2 separate regions of the Homo sapiens genome follow, and region 1 is linked to region 2. The links come from fine-mapping of genetic effects on gene expression. A gene starts in region 2. The other region holds a variant in brackets. All regions are shown on one strand. Distances are from middle to middle.

The links.
Region 1: its variant is fine-mapped to the expression of ZNF609 in tibial nerve (GTEx, PIP above 0.99). The same link has a PIP of 0.9 or more in aorta, lung, subcutaneous fat and thyroid.

Annotation. Positions count from the first base shown.
Region 1 is chr15:64,678,884-64,683,252 of GRCh38, reverse strand. ZNF609 (zinc finger protein 609) reads right to left here. Exons shown (of 10, transcript NM_015042.2): 7 at 2,893-3,068; 8 at 2,391-2,607; 9 at 1,866-1,944; 10 at 1-1,561. The coding sequence ends at 1,871. Among named protein-coding and RNA genes, the nearest start is that of OAZ2, 22 kb to the left of the region's middle. The variant C/T (reference allele first, on the strand shown) is at 1,841.
Region 2 is chr15:64,458,228-64,462,611 of GRCh38, reverse strand. ZNF609 (zinc finger protein 609) reads right to left here and starts at 2,034. Exons shown (of 10, transcript NM_015042.2): 1 at 1,774-2,034. LOC105370861 (a long non-coding RNA gene) reads left to right here and starts at 2,025. Exons shown (of 3, transcript XR_932367.3): 1 at 2,025-2,113. RefSeq lists silencers at 1,703-1,802, 1,863-1,982 and an enhancer at 2,443-2,512.

The sequences.
Region 1 (4,369 bases), 220 kb before region 2:
CCTTTTCCAGCCTACACTGGTGTCTGTCAGTCTTTATCTCTCTCTCTCAATCCAGAGGGTCATGGAAAGATAGGAGGGGAGAACAGAGGGATGATACCTCAAAAGCCAAGTAAGCTAAGCTCCCCACACCTTGGGGAAGACATGACCCCAATAAAGCTACCAAATCATCCTCACTTTCCCAGTACAAAGAGTATAAAGCTTCCATTGGGAGACTGCATTTCTAAGGAGAGCAGAGAAATGTTGGCTGCCTCAAAGCACAGCTCCACTGAGTACATTCTGAGACTCTAATAAGTAATGGCTTGGATGTGTTATTCCAGGGTCTAAGGAACAAATAACCTCCCATGGCCAGTGGCCCCTCAAACAAAATATGTGTTACCAAGAAACACAGCTTATATTGGCCCACATGGAGGTTATAGACTGAGCTATATAAAATCATGTACTTGTAGACAGAGGAATTGGGCTGTATATATCTGTGGCCTCAAATGAGGAAGATATCAGATGGCTAGATGACAGGACATCTCCAAGAACTGCTGGGTGCTCCCAGGGGCTGCCTTCTGGGCCTTGCCCTAAGGTGACCTGGCAGACTCCAAGGTTCCCCAAGCTGGGGGGAATACTAGTTTATCTGCCTGAGGCTTAAGAGCCAAGCAGTGGAAAAGAAGAGGCAAGACCAGTGTGGGGATCCCCCTGGGAAAGGCACCAAGGGGTTAGGAGGGAAGGGAAAAGGGCAAGGAGTTGGGGAATAAGAAGCAGCAGGACTTAGTGGGGACGCAGGTTCTACTTCACAGACGTCATTCATGCTCCAGCACCAGCTTGCTCCCAGTGTCCCTGGGGAGCCCTGTGCTGGTGTTGGAACCCCTGCCCCCTGCCTCACAGGCAGCTCAAGGCCATGTTGGGGCAGATGCCTTGGTCTTCCTTTCCAGGCTAGGTTGTGAGCGTTTATATGTGCTCATGTAAATGGGGAGAAGTCTCCACATTTGAAGACCTTGTTTTCACAATTATGTAGAAAACAACCCCCAATTTCTTTCCTGAGATTCTAGTTCCTCCACATGCTGCCAATTCCCAGGGTGCAAAGCACTAGGGAGATGCAGAATCTGGTGATGGTGGTAATGATGGTGAGGGGTATGGCTGCTGTGCTGTCTTCAGACCTTACCCAGTGCTTGGGGGTGGGGGTCCCTCCCTGGTGGGCGGGGGGGCTGGTACTGCTCCAGCAGCAGACCAAGGGCTTGGGGAACAGAGCAGTGGCTTCTCTGGGCTGAGGCCATGTTCCCCTGGTTGCTTCCCGTGCCTTCATCTCCACAGAGGCCACAATAGTCATAACTGTGGCTGAGAGAATAAATATTTTTGCTAAGTACCAGCTCTCCAGCTCCTGAGGAAGAGGTAGGGTCAGGTAGTCCGGAGGTCTGGTGGAGGTGAGATAGCCAAGGGTCTGCCTTCAGTCATGGTGGAAACGGCAAACAGGATGATCAACACCATTTAACTGATGTCTAAACGGCACCTTCAGCACCTCCTTGGGTAAGCCAGTCCGGGCCCGTGAAGCTGACTTTATCCGGGCACTTGGTGTCTGCAAGGGAAACATGGACAGATAACCAGGCACTCAGCCTGTTGGTAAAAAAACCACAAGGTGGCACTCCAAGAAAATGAATTGTAGGAGTGGCCAGTACTGGTCCCTAGGGGACACTGTGTTCCACAGGTCCTCTCAGATGCACATGGCTTCACGGGAGACTCTTGTACAAGAGGCTTGGCCAGGGTTCCATGGATTCCAGACTGCTGACCCCTCATAGCTATTTCTCACCTAGGGATTCTGTGATCCAGGTAGCAACTATCCCGGCTTTATGTGTTG[C/T]CCCAAATTAATAAAAGTGACTTACCATTCTCACCTCCTGGGGGGTGGGTAGAGTGAGGGAGTTGAGCCTTGTTGGCTGGCAACAATGGCTGTAGAAGAAAGCCCTGAATAAGCAGGAGAACATGTTAGTGTAGCACTCACAGAAACCTTCCATTAATCTTTTTCCCTGAGTTTTGGGGTGCTGACAGAAAAAAAAATCTGATACTCAGCCAGATATATTTGCTGGAGATAGATAATAAGGCTCTATTTCTCAGCTGATTGTTTCTCTTTGCCTTTGGGGAACACCTGTTCCATATTCTTCTGACTATCAAGGCCAGTATTCTGGAGGAATTTAAGAGTCCCCAAACTCCAAGGGAGGAATAAATATCATATGCTTTAATGACTGCAGGAGGTTAGGACTGTGCACAGATTAGAAGCTCAAAAAAAAAAAATTAAAAAAGGATTCTTATGAGGCAGGTAGGAGGGTCCTAGCTGTGGACATTACTACTGGGATGAAGATAAACAAAACAAAACAAGACAAAACAACAGGTGGTAGGGAAAACAGGCTTACCTGCTGCATAGGGTAAGTTGTACTGTGCTGGGAGCAATGAGTACCCCAAGTGGTGGTGGTGGTGGTGTGTGGACATCAGGCGCTGGGAAGGAGAGGTGCGGGGCCGGTCAACACTCCGTTCACCCCCACTTGCTCCCCCGACGCTGCTACAGCTGCCACCACCCCCAACCACCCCACAGCCTCCTCGATCTCTCTCCTGAGAAGTTTTATCACTTATCTGGAAAGGAAACCAGAGACACAAAAGCACTATAGTGAGACACATATGCATACAACCACACACACACACACACACACACACACAAGTGAGATGCCCAGGGTGCCACCTTATGACCCCTAAAAGTGCAAGATACCTAAGAATAAAGAAGATGCCCTGGGGGCTGCCAGTGTCAAGTCAGCCAAGCTGCACTGTGGTCAGGACCTGAACTTGCCCACCTTCTCCCAGACCCTGGATCTGGCCTTACTAGTCTTTGGGTAACAGCCAGCATCACTGTACTTTTCTTACCGTGGGAGACTTGCTCTTGTAGTGACTGGCATGCTGCTGCAAGATGTCCAGGGCTTTGGACTCTGAGCTGGATTTACAAGTCACACTGGGGCTGGCTCGTGCCTTGTCAGCATCTTCACCACCTGAGACCTTGCTGCCATATGGGGAAAAAGAGTAGCTGGAAGGCAGGTAGGAACCTGTGGAAGGAGAAATCAAACAGTCAAAGAGATGGGAGAGGTAGAGGAAACTCTGCTTTAGTGAGCTTGATTGGGTGGGCATCAGCTTTCCTAGGCACAGGCTGAGGTATTTTCTAACATAGTGTCTTTGGCTGAGACTGTTGGCTTGACCTTTCTTTACTGAGCTCTACAGGAAAAATTAGCTAAGGGATATTAGGAACATGGCCCTGTTTCCTGCTTCCAACTTCCATAGATCTGATACTGTTCTTTGAACTGGTCTCAGATTCATCTTGGAGAAGTGATATGATAAAGTGGAAAGATCACACTTATCTGGAGTCAGAGCCTTGGGCTCAAAACCTTACTCTGAGACTTACTAGCTTGGTAACCTTGAGCAAATAAATAACTGTTTTGAGCTTCAGTTTCTTCATCATCAAAAATGAAGATATCAATACTTATTACTTAAGGTGATAGGGAGGATTAAAAAAGATAATGTCTATAAATCTCAGAGGACAGCGCCTGGCTCAGGGCGAGCACTCAACAAATGCAACTATGATTTTTATATTGATGGGTGTGAGTGACAGGGATAAAGGAACACCTCAAGGGTAAGAAATTTCCTATTTCTGTTTGAAAAGCTTATTTCTATTTAGAGTGTGCTTTATAATAATGTCACCAGAATGTTGAGACTATTTAGGCTGCTGTAGGAAGCTGGAGGCTCTAAGGAGTGAGGCTAAAGCAGTGCCCTTCCACCCCAGAAGCACCCCACATGGTTCTTTGGGCAACAAAACGAGTAGAGTTAAATAAGAGCATTTTCTTCTAACAAGTTAAAAAACATTTAAGGCCGGAGCGGTGGCTCATGCCTGTATCTCAGCACTTTGGGAGGCCAAGGCAGCCGGATCACCTGAGGTCGGGAGTTCAAGACCAGCCTGACCAACACGGAAGAACACCGTCTCTACTAAAAATACAAAATTAGCCAGGAGTGGTGGCACATGCCTGTAATCCTAGCTACTTGGGAAGCTGAGGCAGGAGAATCGTTTGAACCCAGGAGGTGGAGGCTGTGGTGAGCCGAGATCACGCCACTGCACTCTAGCCTGTGCAACAAGAGTGAAATTCCGTCTCAAAAAACAAACAAACAAAAAACATTTAAACACTATAAAGAGCTTGTCTTTTCCAAGCTGAATCTAGCAGGACCTCCCCCCAGTCTGACTTCAGATGGCTCTTCTTACTTGACAGGTGAACATGATCTGGCAACTGAATCCATGCATTGTTATGGTTTGCATTTTATTTGTTCTTTGTGTCTCTCCACTATGATTAAGCTGTAAGCT
Region 2 (4,384 bases):
ATTTTTAAAGAAACAGGGTCTTGCTTTGTTGCCCAGGCTGGTCTTAAACTCCTGGGCTCCAGCCATCCTCTGGCTTCATTCTCCCAAAGTGCCAAGATTACAAGCATGAGCCACCACACCTGGGCTTGACTCCCCATCTTAACACTGCACAGGTTTTTAGTGGTATTCGGAAACAAACAAAAATCACTGCATGAGTGTTCCATTCATATAAAAGAATTAAATATGATGATTCAACTAAGAGTAGAACCTTCCCTTGAAGTCTTCTTCCTTAAGGGTCTGAAACAAACATCGTAGTTGAGTCTACCAGACACTATTCCTTCACAACTTAGTACAGGCTAGCCAAAGAGGCAGGCACAACATGGCTGGCATCCCTTATTCTTCTGAAAAATGTGTGCCAATGAGCTCTGCATTGTTCCTCACTCAAAAAGAAGAGCCTTTCTCTCTGGCCTCCTCCAATGGCAAGCCCCAGTCTGGAAAAGGAAGAAAATGGCACTGAGGAGCCTGGGAGATGGAGCATATCCAAAGCTCTCAGACAAGACTTGAACCTATGACCTTCACTGTGTACACAATAGGCGGGTGAGAGGGACCGGTTTATCTCTGCTGCAGCAGTTCTCAGCCCTGGGGTAGCGCTCCCGATAAAATGACACGACTATTGTGTGTGGCAGCAGAACAGTCATCTCCTCACAACAGCCTAAACCAGCACTCCCTCCCCCAAGACAAAGCAGCAGGGGTGAAATTAACTCAAGGCTGCAGAGCAAAGCCTAATACAGAAAAGGGAGGCCTGTAGGGGCTTGGGGACTCTCCTCAACCCCTTAGGCTCTGGACACATGGCTGGAAACAGACAGGCTTTCTTCCCTATCTTTCTCACTCTCATTTAGGTAGGGAGCTGTTTCTTAGAGAATTTAATCATCCGTGATTTGTTCAGAAATATTCCCCCTGAAGGGCTCTGATCTCTCCACCCTGTGTGAGCCTAATTCCTCGAAGCTGAAATGACTGTTTGCTGCTGCCTGTTTCACAAACACACATTAATTGGTCAGATGTGTCTCCTCCTCCTCAACCCCAGAGGGAGGAAGGAGAATCTGAGCAAAGCACAGAGATGATCCAACCGTAATTACACATAAAGGGAAAAGAGGGCAGCATGGGTTTTCCAAACAGGATAGGGTCACAAACCCTCCCGGGGGTACAAGGATAGCAGTTGAGGTCCAGGCCCAGGGATCCCTCCATCTTGAAGAAAAGGACAGGAGTAAATGTGACCTGAAGACTGTTAGGGGCACACACCCACAACCTACTTACTGCAGGATCCCAGCCACCTTGCTCCCCACTCCTAGGTCACGCACACGTCCTGCTTCCGACCCTATGCTCTGAACAACCACCACCGCCCCCGCCCCCCCTCCCCCGCCAACTCCCTGACTGGCCCCAGTCGCCCCGAGCGCCCTCAACATACCCAGACTCGCCTCAGAAACTCTCTGGCCTGCTCCCATAACCTAGCCAGACCCTAATCCCCTCCCGGGCACCCCTACCCTCAGCCTGAACCGGCCGTGGCCACGCTTTGAACTTCACCCCGCGCCCCTCGACGCCCCCTCCCCCACCCACGCAACGACCCCCCCTACACACCTTCCCCTCGCTCCGCCCCAGCCCCCCCAACCCCCACTTCCTCCGTCAGGCAGCGCCGCCGCCCCCGGCCCCCATCAGATCCCCTCAGCCCCGCGCCCCATCGGTGCCGCCGCCTCTTTCCTCCCCCAGTCCCGGCTCCACACAAAGCTCCGGACTCACCGCGCGGCCGGTCCCGGGAGCCGCCACCTCCGCCCGCCCGGGGCCCCGGGCCGTAGAGCCGCCGCTGCTACGGGGCCCAGGCCGCCATCCGTTCCCGCGGCCCCTCCCCCCCACCCCACCCCGGCTCCGGCTCCGGCTCCGGCTCTGGCTCTCTGCCCCCTCCCCGCGCCTCTCCGCCCCGCCCGGCCGGTGCCGCTGTGTCCGGGGCCGCGGGTCCCTCAGCCGCCGCCACCGCCGCCGCCGCCGCGATCCGGGACAACCAGAGTCACCCGGAAGACGCGGACACTGGACTGCCAGGCCCTCGGATCCGGATTCCGCGCTTGTGTGGAGTCTGGAGCCGGTGAGCGCAGGGGAAACCCGGAACCTGGATGAAGGAGCGAAATCCTGGGTCTCGGAATGCGCGCTCACCCGGAGCCCAGATTAGGGAGTCTTAGCTCAGGGAATGCTGGAAAACCCGGCGTGCCGGTTAGAACCAAGATAAACTCAAAGAAACCTGGATTAGAGAGCTCGAACCTAACGCTGTCCCCTCGTGGGCAGTAGAACTCTCGCTGGATCAGACTTCCTCATAGAGAGGTCTCTGGGGGGAGTATTGCACCTTATAACACAGAAGACACCTCTTCTGTAGTTGTCCTTCAACCACAGAGAGGAAAGGGCCGTAGGGGATCTGAACATGGGCATCCACAAAGAACAGAAGAGCAATCACAGCTCCTGATGGTTTCATCCATTTTACCCCTTAGTTCAGCAAAGTACCAACCTCCTAATTTTTTATCCTTTGTTCTCCAGCTTTCTCTTTTAGGATTACCACTTGCTTTTCTCCCCAAAGCACCCATTTCTAATCCCTCTATATATCCCTTTTCCCCTCACCATCCTCTATCACTAAATCTTGTTGCCTTTTATTATCTAAAAACCTTATTCTGTCCTTCTCCAACCCACCATTCTAAGGATTGTAGCTTTTATTTTTCCTTATCTGCTATTCATCTCTGATTGCCCAGCATACTATCTAGTGCACAGTAGGCATTCAGTCCATGTTTAAGTGAGCCCTCCCACCCAGCTTTCACTTGTGAAACATCTATTCATGACGACCTCCTAAGACTTCCATCTCATTCCATAGCAAACAAATTTACCTTAATTCTCAAGGCCTCCCACATCCTAGCCCCTATTATGTCCTTCCTGTGTCCTTGACCATTTTATTTTGCTTTGCATTTATCTTACCTTTTTTCCCTTATCCTGGGGCATCCTTCAACAGTGCCACTCAAGATAGCATGTGACTTGGAGATAAAGTGAGGTCATAAAAAGGTGGGGGGAGGGGTTGATAGCTAAAGATAAAAGTAAACCTTTCTGGTCTAGGAAAAATAATCTCTCTTTGGTCCACCAATAGTCATGTTGTTAGACAGTACAGGGGCAGAACTGATCCCAGGTGACAGCGAACTTCCAATGTATACTAGACAAAGTTACAAGTGAGGATTCAGCTACTTAGCAGGTGGAGACAGAGAAGGGTTTAGTGTTTTAGACTTAGGCATGATTTAATTAAGGATTAAACATTCCAGTAGTCATCTCCCACTGAAGGAGCATGACTCTGCCATTGGAGAGAACTAGACTGCAAAAATAGGGAACAAAGGAAGGTAAACATTCCTGCAGTGAACTCCAAGTTTCAGCCAGAGAAAGTTCTCAAGCCTCGAAGAACCACTAAAAATTTTCAAGTGATCAGATGTCCCACATAGTAAACAAACCTTAAGTTTTGATTTACTGTTCCTCTAGACCAAGGGTTGGCAAACTGCATCTCACAGGTCAAATCAGGCTCACCACCTGTTTTAACATGTCCCATGAGCTAGAATGATTTTTACATTTTTAAACAGTTAAATAATCAAAATACTATTTCATGATGTGAAAATGATATGAAATTCAAATTTCAGGCCAGGTGCGGTGGCTCACGCCTGTAATCTCAGCACTTTGGGAGGCTGAGGCGGGCGGATCACGTGAGGTCGGGAATTCGAGACCAGGCTGACCAACATGGAGAAACCCCGTAAAAATACAAAAGTAGCCGGGCGTGGTGGTACATGCTTGTAATCCCAGCTACTTGAGAGGCTGAGGCAGGAGAATCGCTTGAACCCGGGAGGCGGAGGTTGCAATGAGCCGAAATCTTGCCACTGCACTCCAGCCTGGGCAACAAGAATGAAACTGTCTTAAAATACAAACAAAAAAATAGTTTTATTGGCTCTAGCCAAGCTCATTCATTTACATTATCATCTATAGATGCATTTTTACTACAACAGCAGAGTTGAACAGTTGAAACAAGGACTGCATGGCCTGTGTAAAGCCTAAAATATTTGCTATCTGACCCTTTACAGAAAGTTTGCCAACCCCTGCTCCAGACAAGCACTATCCAACAGAACTTTTTGCAGCGATGGAAATGTTCTATATCTGTGCTGTCCAATGCAGAAGTCGCTAGCCACATGTAGCTATTTGAGCACTTGAAATATGGTCAACAGTGACTGAATAACTGAATCCTTAATTTCATATAATTGAGATTTTCATAACCACAAGTGGCTAGTGGCTACCATAATAGACAGTACAGCTCTAGACTCTTAAATCTTCTGTACTGATGTTTTTT